Linked DNA regions of Homo sapiens: region 2 is linked to region 1. Evidence: fine-mapped expression QTL. A gene starts in region 1. The other region holds a variant in brackets. All regions are shown on one strand. Distances are between the middles of the regions. Region 1 holds the start of GABRD (gamma-aminobutyric acid type A receptor subunit delta). Region 2 holds the start of LOC107984872 (a long non-coding RNA gene).

Region 1 (9,927 bases):
GCCTGTAATCCTAGCACTTTGGGAGGCTGAAGTGGGCGGATCACCTGAGGTCAGGAGTTCGAGACCAGCCTGGTCCAACATGGTGAAACCCCATCTCTACTAAAAATACAGAAATTAGGCGGGTGTGGTGGTGTGCGCCTGTAATCCCAGCTACTCGGGAGGCTGAGGCAGGAGAATCTCTTGAACCCGGGAGGCGGAGGTTGCAGTGAGCCGAGATCACGCCACTGCACTCCAGCCTGGGTGACAGAGTGAGACTCCATCTCAAAAAGATAAAAAGAAAGAAAGAAAAGAAAGCAGATTGGCAGCTTCTTACCAACTTAAACATACAGTCCCCTTGAAACCCAGTAATCCCACACATATTTATTCAAAAGAAACGAAAACATGTGTCCATACACAGACTTGTATTTAAATGTTAAAAGCAGCTTTACTCATAATAGCCCAGAACTGCATATGTCCCAGAGCTCATCAACAGGTAGACAGTTAAACAAACCGAGGTGTGAGCATGCAATGGAATGAAATATTACTCGCAATAAAAAATCCACCGTTGACATGCACAACGGCATGGGTGGCCCTACAGAGTGTTGAGCTGAGAGAAGGCAGACACGAACGACGGCTCTGCTAGAAATCCACTACCACACGAGTCACTGCGACACACAGCAGCTTAAAACAGTGTTTATCATCTCAGCTTTTGTAGGTCTGGGTCCCGGCTCAGTCTCCCTTACAAAGCTGCAGTCCGACGTCAGCCAGGGTCACGGTCACCTCCAGGCTCAGCTGTGGCAGCATCCCAGGGTGGCTGTTGGAGTGAGTTCCCTGCTGTCTTGGGGGTGGTGGAGGGGTCTGGCTCTCATGGCTGCCTTCAGTTCCTGGCCCATGAACCTCCCCACCTCAGCAGCAACCCAGCACTGGCTTCATCAAAGTGAGTAGGGGCGACAGTGCCCTGAGACCTGAATCACGGCATTTTATAAATGAATCTCAGGATGCCTCATCACTCTTTTTATTTAACTTTTATTTTTTTTCAAGATGGTGTCTAGCTCTGTCACCCAGCCTGGAGTGCAGTGGCACGATCTCAGCTCACTGCAATCTCTGCCTCCCAGTTCTCCTGCCTCGGCCTCCTGAAGAGCTGGGATTACAGGCGTGTGCCACTGTGCCCGGTTGATTTTTGCATTTTAGTAGAGATGGGGTTTTACCATGTGGGCCAGCTGGTCTCGAACTCCTGACCTCAAGTGATCCGCCCACCTTGGCCTCCCAACGTGCTGGGATTACAGGTATGAGCCACTGCACCCTGCCTTTTTATTATTTGTTTTAGAAACTGGGTCTCAGTCTGTTGCCCAGGTTGGAGTGCAGTGGTGCGATCACGGCTCACTGCAGTCTCCACCTCCTGGGTTCAAGCGATCCTCCCACCTCAGCCTCTGGAATACCTGGCTAACTTTTTTTCTGTAGAGACAGGGTCTCCCTATGCTACCCAGGCTGGTGTCAAACTCCTGGGCTCAGGAGATCCTCCCGCCTCAGCCTCCCACAGTGCTGGGATCACAGGTGTGGCCATCGTGCCCGGCCCATCACTCTTTATGGATGAGAACAACACACTGCTTGGTCCAGACGACATGTGAGGAGGAAGGCCACGCCACACCAGGGGTAGGGATCGTGGGGAGCCCTGGGAGAAGGCTGCCAACCCACCTTCCTGCTGGACGGTCCCGTTAATGAGCTGCCGCGAGTTCCATTCGCGGCCAGATCTTGTCTCCCCAGCAGCCCACTTTAGGCGTCTTCGTGCCGTTGCCTCAGTCGTGCTTGTATCTAAAAGTAGGACGTGTTTGTCACTTGATCGACAGCCCTTTTGTTAGAAACGTTACTTTGTGTTTAAGGTTTTCTATCGCACGAAATAATTCAAATTGCCACTTTAAAAAACATAGAACACGAGAATAGAATACCGACTTCTCCACATTAAAAACGAGTAATGGTTCTTGGATATCTATTTAACTCAAGTATAGAAAAAATGTTCTAAGCGGCCAAGCTGGGTTGTTCATTGGTTCTCAGGGCCTGGATGGCTAAAGACAGCTACTCAGCTAAGCGTGGTTTCCGACTGAACTGCATCCTTTGTTTCAGTAGACGGCCGGTCTCAGGCTGCTACACGTATTTTGCATTTGGTCGTTTCTGCCAAATTTCCTCTGCTTATCCACATGAACGGAGTCCGTCTGAAAATCACAGGATTAATAATTACCACCTAACTCGATAACGTTCTTCTCTGTGTCCCTGCCATTTTCTCTGTTTGGTGCATTTCCCCAGGAAAGTAACAGAACAACCTCACAAATACATCAGGAAGGAGGTTTAAATTTAGCGAGCGCCGTTTCCTCTCCCAGGTCCCGGTGACTCACCTCCACCTCCCAGGGCTGTCCTGCTGCTGCGGAGCTGCAGCAATGGACGGGGGCCAGCTCCCTGCCCACGCCTCGGACTCTAGGCCGTCCCTTCCCCTGCGCTGTGGGCATCTGAGCATCCGGCAAGGTGTCAGTCCAAAAGAAACAATGTAAGTGGGCTGCAGGCTGGCATCTGAATACCCACCTCAACCCGCAGACCACACTTCCGTGGCTTTCTGTGTGCTCCATAGGACATTGGTGTCCAGGGAAGAACCGAGTCAGTGACTCCCAGGGCTAACTAACGGGTAGGATGTTCATTCCTTCCAGAGCCAAAGGTGCACGTTCTGCTCCGTGCCATATGGGGAAAGTGTAACGCCTCCCAGCACTGAGCAGAAGGAAGAGGCAGCAGCTATTGCCCTGAGCACCCACCCAAAGGGCTCTGGATGGATCCTCCCCGATGGAGAAGCAGTTCCACGTGTCCAGGAAGCAGGAAGAGCGCTGTGAAGGAATACTGGGTGTGTAGGGATCAAGGGCTCTGGGTGTGAAGTCTGAGCTGCTTTCTCGTGACTGTTCCCACAATCTGGTGCTGGAGCCCCCTCGGTGTGCACTCTCAGTGGTGCCAAGACAAGGAGGTGGGTTTTGTTCAGGAGCCTGGGTAAGGAGCACACACCCCATCTCAAACGGGGAGACTTCCATTGATGGAGATCGGCCTTGTTACTGATTGTGAAAACCTCACCAGAGCCTCGTTCGGAGGGTGGGTTCTCCCACAGGACAGGAGATGGGGCATAACCTCCAGTATTCCCCAGAGAGCGGGCAGCCCAGGTCTCTGCAAAGTGGGTAGTCACTGTCAAACAAAACAACCTGAGACGCTTTCTAACAGAGTTCAGCACTTCTGACACTAAGAAAACCAATCACGACTCTCACCCTGTCATTTTGTAAAAGAAGAAAACAAAACTGGGAAATAACTTCGCTGAGGTCACACGGCCAGTTTGGAGCAGAGCTGGGACTGGCACCCAGACCTCTGACTCCTGGAGCTCTTCCCAGATTCTTGAAAGGGGCCAAGAAGTGAGCTGCTTCCATCTCATGGGCACAGAAACTCCCTGTCCTGGGGCTCACATCCACCAGGTGCCAGCCACACAGGCCCCAGTCACACAGGCCCCGGCTCCTGACCCCTGGGCCAGGCTGCTCCCCGGCTGGCCTTCCTGGTGCTGGCGTGGTCGGAGCTTCCCTGGGTGGAGGATGAGGCTAAGGAAGCCGACTGGTTATGCACATCACAATGGGATGGAAGTTCGGAAATGGCAACAAACTAATTCTCAAAAACCTTGAAAAAGAAATTATGAAAATTCCCGTTCTTCAGATCCAAACTGAAACATCAGTTAGGAGGCCGGGTGTGGTGGCTCACGCCTGTAATCCCAGCACTTTGGGAGGCCGATGTGGGCCGATCACTTGAGGTCAGGAGTTCGAGACCAGCCTGGCCAACATGGTGAAACCCTGTCTCTACTAAAAATACAAAAATTAGCTGGGCATGGTCGCAGGCGCCTGTAATCCCAGCCACTTGGGAGGCTGAGGCAGGAGAATTGCTTGAACCCAGGAGGTGGAGGTTGCAATGAGCTGAGATAGTGCCACTGCCCTCCGGCCTAGGCAACAAGAGCGAAACTCCATCTCAAAAACAAAAAAGAAAGAAAGAAAGAAAAAGAAAGAAAGAAAGAAAGACCAGTTAGGAACAATAAAGAATGGAAATGAAGTGTGCAGACTTCAAACCTTGCAGAAACCTGTGAATGATGGATGGGACATGCATTTGCCTCTAGGACTGAAGGAAGAGGAGACAATTTGATGCCACCAAACCACCAGATATTTGGCTAAGATGCCCGCCCAGCTTCAACTGACATACACACAACAGCACGACTTTCCAGCAAAAGTTCAACATTGGCTGGGCACGGAGGCTCATGCCTGCAATCTCAGCACTTTGGGAGGCCACGGGGGAGGATCCCTTGAGGCCAGGAGTTTGAGACCAGCCTGGGAAACATAGTGAGACCCCATCTCTACAAAAAATAGAAAATTATCTGGGTGCAGTGACATGCCTCTGTGGTCCCAGCTCCTCCAGAAGCTGAGGTGCAAGGATCCCTTGAACCCGGGAGGTGGAGGCTACAGTGAGCTGAGATCGTGCCACTGCACTCCAGCCTGGGCCACAGAGCAAGACCTTGTCTCTTAAAAGAAAAAGAAGAAAATTGAATGTTAATTTTATGCCCCAGATAATAGAGGAGCGTGAAGAAAATGGCAATAGGGTGTGGCTTATCCTGAATGAATCGGATCCAGTGAGTCAAGATCAACGCTGCTTCTCAGAGGTGATCAGCACCAAGATATCCTCAGATAAGCTCTTCGCAGATATTGAAGGGATTGCGACCATGAACCACTCTCACTGCTTAGTTCCAAAGCTCAGGAAGGAAAGACAGGGAGGGCGGGGCACTGTCCGGAGGCAGTGATGGCGTGCTGGCCGCAGTGGGTGCATGGACTTTGCAGATGTGGAGTCTGCACCTCCTCCTACATTTGCTGAGCACCTACTTCATCCAATACACCACCAAGGAGAAGACGGACAAGACCCCTGTTCTGGAGGGGGAAGAATAAAAATAATGCCTCTCACCGGGGGCCGGGCCAAGCTCTGGGCACCTCTTCATGAATTAACTCCTAAATTAATCCATGGAAGGGACACGTGGGAAGGGGCACGTGTGCAGAGCACAGGCTCGGACAGGAACCCCGGGAACACAGGGAGGTCAGTGCTTCTGTACCCAAAGGACCCCTCTCGGCAGGGGCCAGTGAGCAGCCGGGAAGGGGGCCTTGGAGTTGAGACCTGTTGGGCTTGTTAGAGCCCCGTTCCTTGATTTAAGAAAGCAGGCTAGGGCTGGGTGCAGTGGCTCACGCCTGTAATCCCAGCACTTTGGGAGGCCGAGGCGGGCGGATCACGGGGTCAGGAGTTCGAGACCAGCCTGGCCAACATGGTGAAATTCCGTCTGTACTAAAGATACAAAAAAATAACCGAGCGTGGTGGCAGGTGCCTGTAATCCCACCTACTCGGGAAGCTGTGGCAGGAGACTTGCTTGAACCTGGGAGGCAGAAGTTGCAGTGAGCCGAGATTGTGCTCCAGCCTGGGTAACAGAGCCAGATTCCATCTCGAAAAATAACATAACATAACATAACATAACATAACATAACATAACATAACATAACATAACATAAATAAAGCAAGCAAACTGGAACCAGCCTCATTCTTCCACTTCCCACAGTAGGGATTGGGCTGGAAATTCCGAAGCAAATCCCTCTCTGCACTTTCCTCCACCTGCCCCTGTGCGGCCAGGGCCCTTCATCCAGAAGCACGCAGCCTCGGGGACAGCTTCGCCATTTTTAAGTGTTTTCACGAGGGGTTGACACTGTGCTGTCAGCGACATCGCGAGCCCAGAAGTGAATAACTGACACAACAATGATTAAAGTTTGTGAGCAGCTTCAGGAAATGGCAGCGCAACTTTATGTTCAAAAGATCCAAGGCAGGAGAGTGTGAGGCCTTCCCTTTCCCAGATCCTAGGGGTGTGGAGGGCGGGCCTGGGGCCATGAGAGGTGTGGAGAGTCAGAACTGCGGCCTGCGGCGCAGCCCCCACCTGCTTTTCCTCTCCCCGCCCCCGTCGAGGGTCCCCAGGGATCAGGACTTGCTCCCAAAGTCGCCTGGCCCCAGCTCCCGCGAAGGCAGGAGGGTTTTGGAAGCAGCCGCTGGTGGGGGTCTCTCTCCTGACAGCTGCAGGGACTGGCCCCCTCCCCACCCACCGCCGGCGCAGCCAGAAGCAGCCACGCAGACGTGCGACCCCCCACAAACCGCCTCGGGACGAGGTTCTGCCGCGCCCGTGGGCCACAGTGTCCACGCGGGGCTTGTGCCGGTGTCGCCTCCCATGAAGACACCCGGAGGGTCCCGTCTGCGGCGCGTGAGGGCAGCGGTCCCGGAGAGCCAGACCCCGGCCAGGGAGAGCTGCCCGCGAGGGAGGGGGCGCGGCTGGCGGAGGGGGGCGGGATGGGGCGGGGGGCGGGGGGAGGAGAGGGGAGCGGCGGGCGGGGCCGGGCTGCAGGGAGCGGCGGGCTGGGGCGGGCTCGGGGCGGGCTCCGCGCTCCGTCCGCCCCCTCGCGCCCGCGCCGCGCTCGCTCAGCTCCCGCCCGCCTGTGCCGCCTGTGCGGCCGCCGGGAGCCAAGTTTGCGCGGACCCCGTCCCGAGCCCGCCGCGGCCATGGACGCGCCCGCCCGGCTGCTGGCCCCGCTCCTGCTCCTCTGCGCGCAGCAGCTCCGCGGCACCAGGTGAGCGGGCGGGGTCCGCGCGGCGCGGGGTCGGGGGCGGTGGGGGGCCCGCGTCGGCCCGAGATAGCGGCTGGGAGAGCGGCCGGCGCGAGCCCCGGGCCCCGGACCCCAAGTCTGAGAGCCCCGCGTCCTCCCTCCCCGGGGTCTTGCCCCGCGGGCCCCTCGTTGGACTCGCCCGGACGCTGCCCTTGGGCTCGGGACGCGGCGACCCCCGCGCTGGCCGCCCCCGCCCGGTGCTGTCCGCCGTCCTGGTGCTGAACCTGGGCTGGGCGAGGGCGTCGGAGCCTCCCGGTTCCCCTGCTCCGCGGCGCGCGTGGAGGGTCCCCGGGTCCGCGGCACTCGCGGGTCCCTGCCCGGCGGGTGCCTTGAGGAGAGGAAAGACCTGAGAACTCGGTGCGGGGAGGCTGCTCCCTTTGCGGGGGAGCCGTTCCCCGTTCCCCCAGTGAGCTTCCCCAGCCGGAGGGTCTGGGACGGACGGAGGAGGCTGTCTCGCTGTGGAGGGTGGGCCCGGCCTCCGGGGTCTCCTTTCAGAGTCCGTTTCAAATGGCGTGGGCAGAACTCCTGAGTGTGTGCAGGTGGACGGCGGCCAGGTGCCCCTGGCCACAGAAAAGAGATGGTGGATTTCTTAACTATTTTGGGAGGGACTCCCCAGAGAAGGAAGAGGCTGAGAAGGAGGCCCCCCGGGGCTGGAGCCCCCTCTGGCCTACAGTGCCCCCCCATCTCCTCTCTGGGGATCTGAAATGGGCTCCTCAGCCACCCAGGCAACTTGGCCCCACCACGGGGCCTGGCTGGCCGCCTTCCCTAGGAGTCACGAGAGGACATTTAGGGGCGTCTTTGAAAATCACCTCAGTGCAAAGACTGCAGAAGAAACAGCAAAGAGCCATCCCCCAGCATTCAGGATCTCAGAGACCGTGAAGATGTAGATATAGAGGTGGCTGACCGTAGTAGAGATGGCAGCACCCAACACGGGGCGGTGTGTCAGAGTTTTCCCATTGGAGGTGCGGGGGACAGAGCCCAGAAGGCCTGGGTCCAGCTGCAGCCGTGTGCCCATCAGGAGACCGCGGGGTCGGCACTGCCCCTGGCTCTAAGCAGCCCGTGTCCTGGGAAGAGCTTTGTTCTTCCATCAATCCCAGTGGGCCTTTCTCCCTTTGTCCTTCCCCTCCTTCAAGGTGAGAGGAAGGACGAAGCTCGGGGCACAGTTGTGGATGCTGTGCTGGAGCCATGGGGACAGCTGCCAGCCCAGGCCCACGGCCACTTAGCCAAGAGGCTGAAATCCAGACGGCTCTGAAACCCCAAAGTTTTAGCCCAAGTTCGACACCAGAATTCAGTTGGCAGCAAGTCCCGTCCCGCATGGACGTGAGACTCTTCTCATCTTTATTAATCCTACTTCTGGGATTATTTATATACACTTCCTGCTGGGAAATTCTTCAGGCCGCCCCCAGCCACAGCCTCTGTGTCCACCATTTCCCTGCTCTAAAATCTGAAGATCCTTAATCCTGGCCTGCATCTGGCTCCTGGGCTGACGGGGAAGGGATTCTGTGCCTGTTTCCTTGGGCAGGAAAGCTGGAAGGCCACGGCCCAGCCAGGAGTGGGGGGCCTCTGGGCCTGCAGTCACTCCCATCCCTGGAAGAGGGGTGCCGTTGGGGAGGACACCTTGCCTGGTGAGAGGTGCACTGCTTTGCTCAGCTCCCCTTTCGCTCTCTAGTTAAAAACAGTTACCACCTGGCTGCATGCTGCAGCCTCTCCTTTGAGGTCATCCTGTCCACACACATGTGCTGGGCTCAACCTCCTGCTCTTGGCGTCTAGGGGCAGGCCTGGAGGGTCTCCCCAGGGTGGAAGCACCTGCCAACTCAGCCCTAGGGGCCACCTTCAGACTTAGCGGGGTGCTGTCCATGAAGGGCCTCTCTGTATCTGTGCCCCTACACTCCAGAAACCAGGACAGCCGCCCTCCCTTCCCTCAGTCTCGGGGTCCTTGTCCTGGAGCTGTATTGGACGTCAGTGGGACCCATTCTGGCCATTACCCCAGGTCCCCATTGCAGCAGCTCCTCATGGGAAAGGCTGGGTGGGATAGGAAGGGAGTGTGCTGCGTGGCGGCCGTGGGTCGGCCCGGAGTGTGAAGACCCGTGCACGCGGCAGGCACCGAGCTTGCCGACTGCATGCCCGCGTGGGTGGCCCTCCCGGGCTGCCGGCACCTCCGTCTCCCTGGAGAAGCTGTGCTGCGGCTCCTACCGTGCCAGCTCGCGGTGCGCTGGTGGCGGTGCTCCTCTTCGCCTTGGTAACTGCAATGCTGGGAGGCTTGAGCTGCTCTAAAAGCAGGGCTGTGGGATATGTGGGCTGGGTGTGCGCCGTGGAGAAGCCTGCAGGGGGAGGATCCCAGCTACATCTACCTTCCCTGTCTGTCCCCAGGGCGCAGACAAGTGACAGGGATGGGTTTGTTTTTCAGTGGGGCCAGGAGGGCAGGAGGCCAGGTGACCCATGGAGAGCCACCCGAGGGGGAAGCTGCCATGTCTTCATGGTGCCCACTCTGCCCCCTGAGTTTGGAGTCCTAAATCTGAGTGTAGACTTGGAGCCTGGTGTGTAGCCCTGAGCCTCTCTGTCCATCCACCCACAGGAAACCCCAAGCTCAGGCCACCACTGGGCCCCAGGGCCACCAGGTGAGGCAGCAGCCCTCTCCCGAGGTCTCCGTGACATACCAGAGTCAGGACAGCCCCACCCTGTGCCTATCTCCGCTGGTGCAGGCTGTGTTCCCCCAGCCCCCGCTAGATCTGCCTCCCTTGTACATCCTGACCTGAGGAAGTGAGGGGCCCTCCAGACCCCAGAGTCTGGCATGAAGCGCACGCCCCCGCACTCTGGCCCTTCCCATCTGTTCACGGTGGGAAAACGACCGGGGGCTCTCCTAGGTGAGAAATGGCGTGGGGGTGGGAGCCTGCTTCCTTCTCGCCCCCAGGAGATGGCAAAGGTGCCTCCAGGTGAGCTTCGTGGCGGGGGCTGCTCCTGGCCTTGCCTTCGTGCCCCCCCACATGTGCCACCACCCTGAGATGGGCAAGAGATGTGGCCCAGGAAGGACGGTGTCTCCTGTGGCCTCATTCCAGGCAGGCTAGATGGCAGCTGGGCTGGTCCAAAAATAAAGCCTCACTAGAGCCCTTTGCGTCCGACCTTCAAGGCAACTGCCATTTGCATTTTTAATTGGCCGGGACTTAATTTGATTCCATCTTATACTTTGTTACCAAAGTGCCTGCTCCTCCTT
Region 2 (9,927 bases), 57 kb before region 1:
AGCTTTTATCTTCGTAGGTCAGGAGACTGCTCTAGAGAGGAGAATCAACATCCTGGCTTGGGAGGTTTCCCACCTCCTTTTCCCAGTCAGCTGCCGGAACTCCCATGAGGACAGGCCGTGTTGGGGGCTGGACCCTGGCTCCAGCGTGGCCCCTCAGCTGCCTCCTCGGCTGCCTGCTCTCGTCTCACCCATCCTGGTTGTGGGATCACAGCAGCAGCTCACCCAGAGACTCAGAGTCACCCCTCAGCCTCCCTCACTCCAGGCCGGGTGGGCATGGCTGTGCTGCCCCAGCCTGGGAGTGTGAGCCACATCTTCCTCTTGGTCCAACCCTCCTTCCTCCTTGGCTGGCTAGAGGCTGAGGCTTCTCTCCACCTGAGCCTTGGGACACCCATACCCGTGACAGGACAAGACGCGCTCACACTTGGAACAGGTGCAGCTGTGGCCATGGAGTGCACCTGTCCAGTCCTCCCACCCCCACACCTGGGGCTTCAGAGATGCGTCGGGGGAGGCTGGGTCTCCTGGGGCCCTCGGGCCTGGAGCTGCTGGCCAGCACCCCTGCTGCTACGTGCCTGAGAAAGGGAGTGTCCTGCTGCTGCTGCCCCTGAGGCCAGGTGACTGCAGGTGTCCTACAGAAGAAGCTGGTCTCTTCTGCTTAGGCTGATTTGAGGAGGCCCCCACACTGCCCTCCTTCTCCCAGGCCCACTGTTGATACCCTCATGTTGTCACCTCTGTTCACCCACATGGGACTGGATTTGGGGGGCAGGTCCCCACACTCCCCCATGGCTGAGTGGCACACTCACTAATTTCAGGGCAGACTGGGAGTCGTCCATCTCACAGGGCTCTGAAGCTGGCAGGAACTTGAAAGTCGTGCCCAAGCCCCCAACGTTGGTCAGCGTGATGGTCCGAGACGTGGTCTCTCCTACCACGTAGCTGCCGAAGTCAATGAGCTCCTTGTCGAGGGACAGCTGCCAGAGGACATGGAGTGAACTCAGGGCCACCGTGCCAGGCCCACAGGGTGCCCAGCGTGAGGCCTGCACGTGGCTCCAGGCAGGGCTGCCCTGAGCATTTGTGCGCGTTGTGCACTGCACAAGCAGGTACACGATTCAACCCAGAAATCAGGTGTGTATTGCTCATGACAAGGTGTGGCACGCGAGTCTGGTTTTAAGAACATCAAGGCAGGAGCCCCCTCGCCACGGAGTAACAAGGGTTCAGTGAGAGGACGCAGGGCCCGGATGCAGGGCCTAAACAAGGAGCCTGGACACGGGGCTTTGGAGGTCCTGAGGATGGATGGTGTCATTCCTGGGTGAGGTCAGCTGGACTCTGGATACAGGGACCCAGGGAGCATCCTTCCAGAACGGGAGCACGCCCTCCATGGGGGTGCCTCACCATGCCCGCTGTGGGCCACAGGCCACAGAAGCTCTGGTGCTGGCTAAGGATGCAGGCCCGGGCCATACCTCGGCTCTGCCCAATGGCCCCTCCTCGGGAGGCTTTTCTGGGCTCTGAGTTTGGAGGCCCAGGGGCTCCCCACTCTGTGCTCCTGCTCCAGGGGCAGGACCAGGGGCCACCGACGCAAATGGACGTGGTTCGCAGAGGGCGGTCGGGGTCCAGCCAAGGGAGGCCGCCTCCTTCCCGCCTGCACCGCCTGGGTCCTGTTCTCCCCTTGTTCAGATGGGGTTTTACTGTTTTTACAGTCCCCAGCCTGGACGCTCCCCTGGGAGAAGCAAGCCCCTGCTCAGGGGAGCCGAGGGTCTCGGTGCTCCTGTCACAGAGGAGCACTTGACACTGCAAAGACCAAATGCGGGAGAGGCCGGGGCAGCTCTGGCCAGGACACCTGGGGCCTCGCCGGGCACGTGCTCCATGATGCTGATCCGGAGTGGAGCAGGCCAGTACCAGACTCCTGCCGGGCTCCCAGGCTGAGCAGGAGGGAGCCGGAGCCTGGCTGTCTGCGGGGGGGCGGGGGACTTCCTGCTGCCCCTGGCCCTGGTGCTCGGTGTCCTGGGCCTGAGTCTTGGCTCACCAAGAGCCCGCACAGCCGAGTGCCGGCCCAACCGTGACCGCTCTGAGGAGAAGGCGGCAGCCACAGGGCAAGGAGCTGCTCGGGTGCCCTAGGACGGCAGTGGTCCCTGCATGAACCCAAGCGGGGCCACTTGAGTGCCAAGAGGAAGGGAGACTAAAGTGACTGGAACACACCAAATACTCAAACACTGGTGAGCCTATGAAGAAACTGAGAGGAAAACACTTCTCTCTCTGCCACCATCGGTGACTCTCATCCCAACCCCTCTCCACGGCGACACGCGGTGAAGGAGGAAGCACGCGACAGAGAAAGTTACACAGGTGCTCATCAAAGGTGGCTTGGGGCCAGCGTGGCCTGGATCACGGGTGACCATGAGGGCGTCTGCTGATCTTCCTGGGGTGGGGGACATAGCGCGCCTCTGCCCTTCGCCTGCCCCGGCTTGTTCCTCCTCTAGTGTAAGAATGGGCCTCTTCCTGCCCCGCTGACGCAGGCTCAGGCTGTGAGACTTGCCTTGACCTGAGAATTCTTAGGAGATAATGACGTCCCCACTGTCCTCTGGGAGATGCTCGTGCTGCCGTAGCTGCCACTCTGGAGTCCAGCCTGGACGGGGCTGGCCGCAGAGGGCTTCACACTCGCGGCTGAGCCAGGAGCCGTTTGCTGTGTGGCAGGTGCGGTGCGAGCTGACCAATTACTCGGCGGGGGCCGGGGGGACAATGATGTGTGGGTTCCTGGTTTACTGGAGATGCATGCTGAAGTTTCTGAGGGTGGAGTGTTGACATTTTACTAATGTACTTTGAAATGGATCAGCAACAACAGATATAGCAGTTGATGGACCAAGCAAAGGTGTCCGAGGCCGACAATGTGGAGTCTGGGAGGATGCGGGGTCCGGGTTGCAGCGCGTGGAGCCTTGTTCTGCTGTTCTGTTTTCCTCTATGCTTGAAATTTTTCTTAGTTAAAAAGAATCAGGCGGGATCCCCCCAAGAGCTGCAGATGAATGTTAAGTTTTCCTGAGCCACAGGCCCTGCAGTCTGGGCTCCACACAGAGCAGGGTTTGTCTCATTTTTCCAGCACTGGTCCGAGTGCCCCACGTTCGAGACCCCACCTAAGGTTCGGCTCAGGCCCACCTGAGCTGCTGTTGGAAGAAGGGGCTCAGCCCCTGGTGAAGATTGGAGCTTCCACCTGGTCCCCCCGCCAACCTGCACCCCCTCCCAGGAGATGCCGTCCCCCACTGGGGTTCCCAGCCAGCATGCCCCGAGAAATGCTGGCTCGGACACCTTTGAACTCACCGAACATTTCTTTGTTGAACATTTCAGTGGAACTGAAAACTCGCCCGTCTGAGCCAAAAATGAGATATTTCCTTCTAGATCCTTGTTTATCTAAAACATAAAACAACCCCCACCACAATACACTTCTGCAACTTTTGTGTGTTTTGTTTTTTTTTTGGACAGGGTCTGGCTCTGTTGGCCAGGCTGGGGTGCAGTGGCACCTGCTCGATTCACTGCAACCCCCCTCCACCCACCCCCACCTGGGGTCCAAGCGATCCTCCCACCTCAGCCTCTCCACTAGCTGGGATTACAGGCATGCGCCACCATATCTGGCTAATTGTATTTTTTGTAGAGACGGGGTCTCGCCATGTTGCCCAGGCTGGTCTTGAACTTCTGGGCTCAAGCGACCCTCCTGCCTTGGCCTCCCAAAGTGCTGGGATTACAGGCATAAGCCACCACACCCCTCCCTCCTGTAACTTTAGCCTGTTACATGTGCCGTGGCTACCTGGGCCAGGGCCGCCTGCCACCTGCCCAGCTCGGGTGACCCCAGGGGAAAGAGTCAGTAGAGGGCATCTCAGGAGGGCTGGACACTAGCTTCCTGGAACATCCCAGCCCTCCCGACTTAGACCCGAGAGTGCACGCCCTCGGCCACTAACCCAGAGGAGCTGCGCCGCGGTTCTGCCCAGCATTCAGGAATATGTTGAGTGTATTTTTGGAAGTAAAATAGCAAAACAGGGGCCTGCGTGATCCTCACTGAGAGGCCAAGTGCATCCTTCCCCCATCATGTTCTGCGCCACCATGCCCGATCACAGGCTCCACCCACCACCACCTCCCCTTCGAGAGAGAACGGGCCCCTCTGACTCACCATCGGCTTGAAGGTGACAAGCACTTCACAGGACATTCCGGCTGACAGGGGGCCAGGGGGGTCAAAGCTGCAGGACGTGACCCATAGCACACGGGGGTTAGTGCTGCGGAGGGCAGACGCTCGCCTCACCACCCAGAGCACAGTCAGGCTGGGCCTCCTGGCCTCCTCCCCATCCCGGGCCTGGCCCCCTGCCCAGCCGCCTTCACCCCGGGGAGTGCTGGATCTGCTGCATTCCCTGCTGCCGCCAGTACCTGGCAGGCAGGGGGCGCTCCAGTGTGTGCGAACGTTTGTGGAGTGAGGGAGTTAATCACTGAAGGCGTGAGGCAAGTCCCCAGGCCAACTGCCAGGAAATGGGACCCCATGGGTCGGAGAGGGCCACAGTTCCCCTGGGCACAGGTGCCAGGCCTGGGACCGGGGCTCTAGGGCTTTGATACCAATATGGGACCAGGGGGCTGTGGGCAGGAGCCAGGAAGAGAGCTGGAACTGGGAGTCCTGAGACAGCTGGGACCCTCGGGACCCTCTCAGCCCCTTTCAGGGAAAGAACCACAAAAATAGCCCCTACTGCACAGGCCACTTGAGGGAGCTGGTCTGTCTTGGCCCAGATCAGGGTGAGGGAGCATCTCCCCAAGGAATTCCTGACGCCAGGCTGATTTCACAAGGTTGGATTTTACCTAATGTGCTTGGTTTAGAAATGCACAAGCTAAAATTTTAATGTAAAATGTGTCCCTGGCTGGCAACATTCCCACGGCACCAGCAGAAGCAAACCCAAAGCTCCTCCAATTGGGAGGGAAATGCTTTGGTGCCGACTGCACAGAGCCCGGGATGGAGCTGCCGGGGAGAGGAGCAGAATCCGAGAGGGTGGACGTGCGTGCCTCACATAAACCAGCAGCAGAGTGCAGGGCCGAGCTCCAAACCCTTCAGA[T/C]GACAGAAGCGTGGAGTGGGGATGTTAGAGGACGTATAGATAAAATGGTTAGAGACAGAAATAGAGAATTCCAGACGTGAGAAAAGAACAAGACACTGTCAAGAAATGCAGACTCATCCAAAACAGAACTTGGCATTTTTAGAAATGAGAGACAGGGCAGCTGAGTAAGAAACTTACTGAGCAATTTCAACCGTTGATTAGCAGCACTAAGGGGACAAGTGGTGAACCGAGCAGCACCTAGAGCACCACCCAATGCGAAAAAGAGACAAGAAATTTCCAACCCGACGGGGAGGTTTCAAAAGGAGGAGCAGGAGGGCAGAGCCGGAGAATGAATGGGGGAGGGGCGATGCCTGGGGAGCTGGGGCTGAGAAGTTCCCAAAATTGTTCAAAGATCTGAATCTTCAGATTCAACAGCACAGTGAGGTCTAAGAAAAATCAGCCCACACCAGACGCACAGCAGAGCTGCGGGACATTAAGGATGAGAGAATCTCAGAGCAAGCAGGCGGAAAGCCAGGTATCCTCCAAAAAAACCAGCACCTGGACCGAGGCCACCTCCCACTCCAGCAACAAGAGGCAGAGGGCAGGAGAGTGGTGGCCTCAACCTGTTGAGAGAAAATAACCGTCCATGAGAAGTTCTCATCCCAGCGTGGGGAGGAATGCCTCGGTGGCTGAGAGCACAGCGACCACCTAAACCCACCTCTGCACGCGCCCTCCAGAAACCACATGGATCAATGAGAGAAACAGGCGGGCTGCAGAAATCCCATGCCTTCAGCATGACTAGAGGACACAGAACCCTCCAGACTTAAAATTAACCATAAGGTGAAAAGTAAACACCAACCTCCAGCATGCATTCTCCATGCCCGCCTTCACAGAGAGCTACGAAGGTCTGAAAAACTGCAGGGAAGAGAGGAAGGAGACGGGAACAAAGACCCTAAGACTGACCTAAAATCAGCTCCCCAAAGAGAACATCACAGCCTCCACAAGAAAATACCAAGTCCCAGTGAGTCAGTGCTGATCTCAGGGAGGGGCCATCAGAGCCCACGCGCCCCTGGGGGCAGCCTCAGGAAGATGCCTCGTGGGAGAAGAGGAGGCCCCTCTGGAGCCTGGGCAGCAAGGGGGGAATGAGGATCCTGCCCTTGCTGACCCTCTTTTGAGAAGCTGCACTTCACAACGCTCGCGGGAGTGGAAACTCCTGAACTGGGAATCCGAAAGCCATCCTGGACCTACAAACCTGTCCACAAAGAGAAAACTGGCAGGAAGCAGGAAGTAGAAGAGAAAGAACTTTCTTAAAAATAAAGTAAGTTAGGCTGGGTGCTGTGGCTCACGCCTGTAATCCTAGCATTTTGGGAGGCCGAGGTGGGCCTCGGATCACCTGAGGTCAGGAGTTCATGACCAGCCTGGCCAACATGGTGAAACCCCGTCTCTACTAAAATACAAAAAATTAACCGGACGTGGTGGCAGGCGCCTGTTATCCGAGCTACTCAGGAGGCTGAGGCAGAAGAATCGCTTGAACCCAGGAGGCAGAGGTTGCAGGGAGCCGAGATTGTGCCACTATACTCCAGCCTGGGCAACAAGAGTGAAACTCCATCTCAAAAAAAAAAAAAAAAAAGTAAGTTACTAAGGAGCAGAAGAAAAGAGAAACATTGCAGAAAACATGGAAAAGGCCGTCAGAGGGAAAAATGAAGAAAAATAAAATAAAAGAGAAAAGAAGAAAATGGGCCAGGCACAGGGGCTCACACCTGTAATCCCAGCACTTGGGGAGGCTGAGGCAGGTGGATCACTTGAGCTCAGGAGTTTGAGACCAGCCTGGGAAACACAGTGAAACCCTGTCTCTACAAAAAATAGAAAAATTAGCCGGGCTTGGTGGCACACAGCTGTGGTCCCAGTTACTCAGGAGGCTGATTGAGGCAGGAGGATTGCTGGAGCCTGGGAAATTGAGGCTGCAGTGAACTGAGATCGTGCCACTGCACTCCAGTCTGGGTGACAGAGCAAGACCCTGTCAAAAACAAAACAAAGAAAAGGAAAGCAGAAAGCATTAAAGGCAACCAGAAGGAAAACATCAGACACCAAAGACCAGCAAGGAGGATCCAAAACACAGGTAAGTGGAGTCTGCAAGGAAGCAAATGGAAACATTGTTACAGAGTGAAAGCACGGCCTTAATTCAGGGAGGCAGTGCTGAAATGAAGACAGCTTTCACCTTGACACTGAAAACACTGGCTAATTGCCAGGGAAAACTTATCAGAATGGTCAACATCAAAACATAACAATACAAAAGGAAACTCTGACAAGGTGTGGTGGCTCATGCCTGTAATACCAGTACTTTGGGAAGCCAAGGCAGGTGGACCGCCTGAGGTCAGGAGTTCGAGACCAGCCTGGGCAACATGGTAAAACCCGGTCTCTACTAAAAATATAAAAATTAGCCAGGCGTAGTGGCAGGTGCCTGTAATCCCAGCTACTGGGGAGGCTGAGGCAGGAGAATCTCTTGAATCCAGGAGGTAGAGGTTGCAGTGAGCTGAGACCGCGCCATCGCACTTGCACTCCAGCCTGGGCGACAGAGCAAGACTCCATCTCAAAAAAAAAAAAAAAAAAAAAAAAAAAGGCAGCAAAACAAAACGAAGAAAAACAAAAGGAAACTTGGGCAGCCAGGCAAAGTTCCAGCCATTCGTGAAGGGAAATGGGCTCGGTCTCGGACGACTTTGACACAAGAAGACAGAGGAGCCCCCTCTACAAAATCTTCGTGAAAATCGGACCTGAGGGCTTATGCCCATATAGAGCCTGTTCCAGCCGTTCTGAACATGAAGGGACCTATGAACCTCCTGCTGTCCCTGCACCGCGTCCCTCCCTGTCTGAGCCGTCCTCTTACTCAACGTGGATGAAGTCCCGGAGGTGCTCCTCCACGCCCACCAGCTTGCAGTAGTTGATCGTGTAGGTGGTGTTTACCAACGTGATCTTTTTCTTGTACACTTTGCCAATATCAAAGTCCTGGGAAAGGCCGAGGTAGCAGCTTCAGAGCGGGTCACAGGGGGCTGTGCTGTGAGCACCGAGGCAGCTTTGCCTCAAGGTAACCGCTGGTGAGCATTTGCCAACTAGGGAGAGGTTCCCAGGGAACAATTTCCAAGGTTTCTCCCAGAATCGAGAAGGCCCCTGGGGTGCATGAAGGACAGGTCTGGGGGTGGAACCTGTCACATAAGAGCCTTCGCCACTTGAGGCAGGACAGGGCCTTGCTGGGGCCCGCAGGTGGGAGTAAGAGAAAAGGCTCAGACACTGTGGGTTCCAAGGTGGGTCCCTGACTCCATGGATGGACTTGAGCTGGGGTCAAATACAGGAGCCCACAGCCTGCTCTGTCTTGCAGAGTTTGGCAGAGGCGTCCAGGCACCAACCTCAGCCTCACATGTTCCCACCCTGTCCCTGCTACATCCCTGTCCCGAGGTTCAGGGGACCCCCACTGCCCCAAGTGGCACAGGGCTTTCGGGGCCACGGCACCCCCATTGCTCAGACTGGCGTCCAGCCCTCCATGGGGATGGGGCCCTCTCCCTCCACCTCCTGGAAGAGAAGGTCCACACTTGGGCCTGTGCCTCCTGAGGAAGCCCCCGGGTTTTCCAGCGTTAAAAAGCGAAAGGCAGGCCAGGCGCAGTGGCTCATGCCTGCAATCCCAGCACTTTGGGAGGCTGAGGCGGGCAGATCGCCTGAGGTCAGGAGTTCGAGACCAGCCTGGCCTACATGGTGAAACCCCGTCTCTACTAAAAATACAAAAATTAGCCAGGCGTGGTGGCAGGCGCCTGTAATCCCTGCTACTCGGGAGGCTGAGGCAGGAGAATCGCTTGAACCCAGGAGGCGGAGGTTGCAGTGACCTGAGATTATGCCGTTGCACTCCAGCCTGGGCGACAGAGTGAGACTCCATCTCAAAAAAAAGCAAAAGGTGTCAGGGGTTGGGCTGCGGCAGGGCTCCCCTGCTGTCCTGTGCTGCTGCCCGTCCCGTTCCTGGCCCAGCTGCGGGCTCACCTGGAAGTGGAGGAGCTCCGGTTTGCTGTTGAAGGGGCGTCCTTGGAACTCACGCCCCCACACCACCTGCTTGTGGACCACCCTGCTCCGCAGCCGCTCCACCGTGCGCTCCAGGATGTCCTTGTCCATCTTTGTCCCGCCCACGGGCTTTCGGTCCACGTCCTCCTTGGGCACCTGGGGGTCACAGAGACAGAGGCTGGGGCTGTTAGCGGCTCCACCTGGGCGGCGCCGGTGGCAGCTCGGAGGCGAGGGTAGCGGTTAGCAGAGCACGGACAGCCCAGCCCCACCGGCTGCCACCAGCGCTGGAGCTGGGAAGAGCCCCATGGCCCGGGGAGTTGCTCTGAGTTGCTCAGAAAGGCCCTGGGGACCGACTGACTTTCTGCTCCATTGACAAGGCAGGGACCCCTCACTTCCAAAAAAGAGGAAACCAGGAAACAAGAGCAGACAGCTCCAGATTCAGGTGGATTTCTGGGAAATGATGTGGAGGGGGAACTTTCCAGATTGTTAAATCAGGACAAGAGGAAGGTTTTGAAAGGTTCTGCAGGAAGCAGTTTTCTCGAGCGGGCAGTGTCAGCACACACTGGGCTTTCTCAGATGAAAAGCCGCTTCCCTGGCCAACACCAGCAACCAGGAAGATCAGAACTGGAGTCCTGAACTGTCCCTTCAGAAGCTGCTTGGACTCTGCGTGGGTCCTGGCTCTGGGCTGTGGGCTGTCCCTGCTGGTGCCCATGCCCGGCAGCCGGGCAGCCTCCTCCCTGGCTTCCCGGGGTGGGGGGGGCACTTGGCACCCTCCTCTTGTCCAGAGGCAGCCTTCTCCCTTGGGTGTCCCCAGTGGGCAGGTGGTGGCTCTGCCTGGCCT

The links. PIP is the estimated chance that this variant, and not a neighbour inherited with it, causes the effect.
Region 2: its variant is fine-mapped to the expression of GABRD in whole blood (TOPMed, PIP above 0.99). The same link has a PIP of 0.9 or more in blood mononuclear cells.

The regions. Positions count from the first base shown.
Region 1 is chr1:2,012,812-2,022,738 of GRCh38, forward strand. GABRD (gamma-aminobutyric acid type A receptor subunit delta) reads left to right here and starts at 6,534. Exons shown (of 9, transcript NM_000815.5): 1 at 6,534-6,680. The coding sequence starts at 6,613. LOC105378589 (a long non-coding RNA gene) reads right to left here and starts at 5,277. Exons shown (of 2, transcript XR_001737844.3): 1 at 2,370-5,277; 2 at 387-2,189. RefSeq lists enhancers at 5,550-6,128, 6,129-6,706.
Region 2 is chr1:1,955,820-1,965,746 of GRCh38, forward strand. It overlaps CFAP74 (cilia and flagella associated protein 74), which reads right to left. Exons shown (of 39, transcript NM_001304360.2): 13 at 9,069-9,242; 14 at 7,930-8,048; 15 at 4,145-4,211; 16 at 3,301-3,390; 17 at 801-965; 18 at 1-31. It overlaps LOC107984872 (a long non-coding RNA gene), which reads left to right and starts at 1,549. Exons shown (of 3, transcript XR_007065354.1): 1 at 1,549-2,334; 2 at 2,545-2,682; 3 at 3,083-3,211. RefSeq lists enhancers at 1,831-2,471, 2,472-3,111, 4,057-4,762. The variant T/C (reference allele first, on the strand shown) is at 5,067.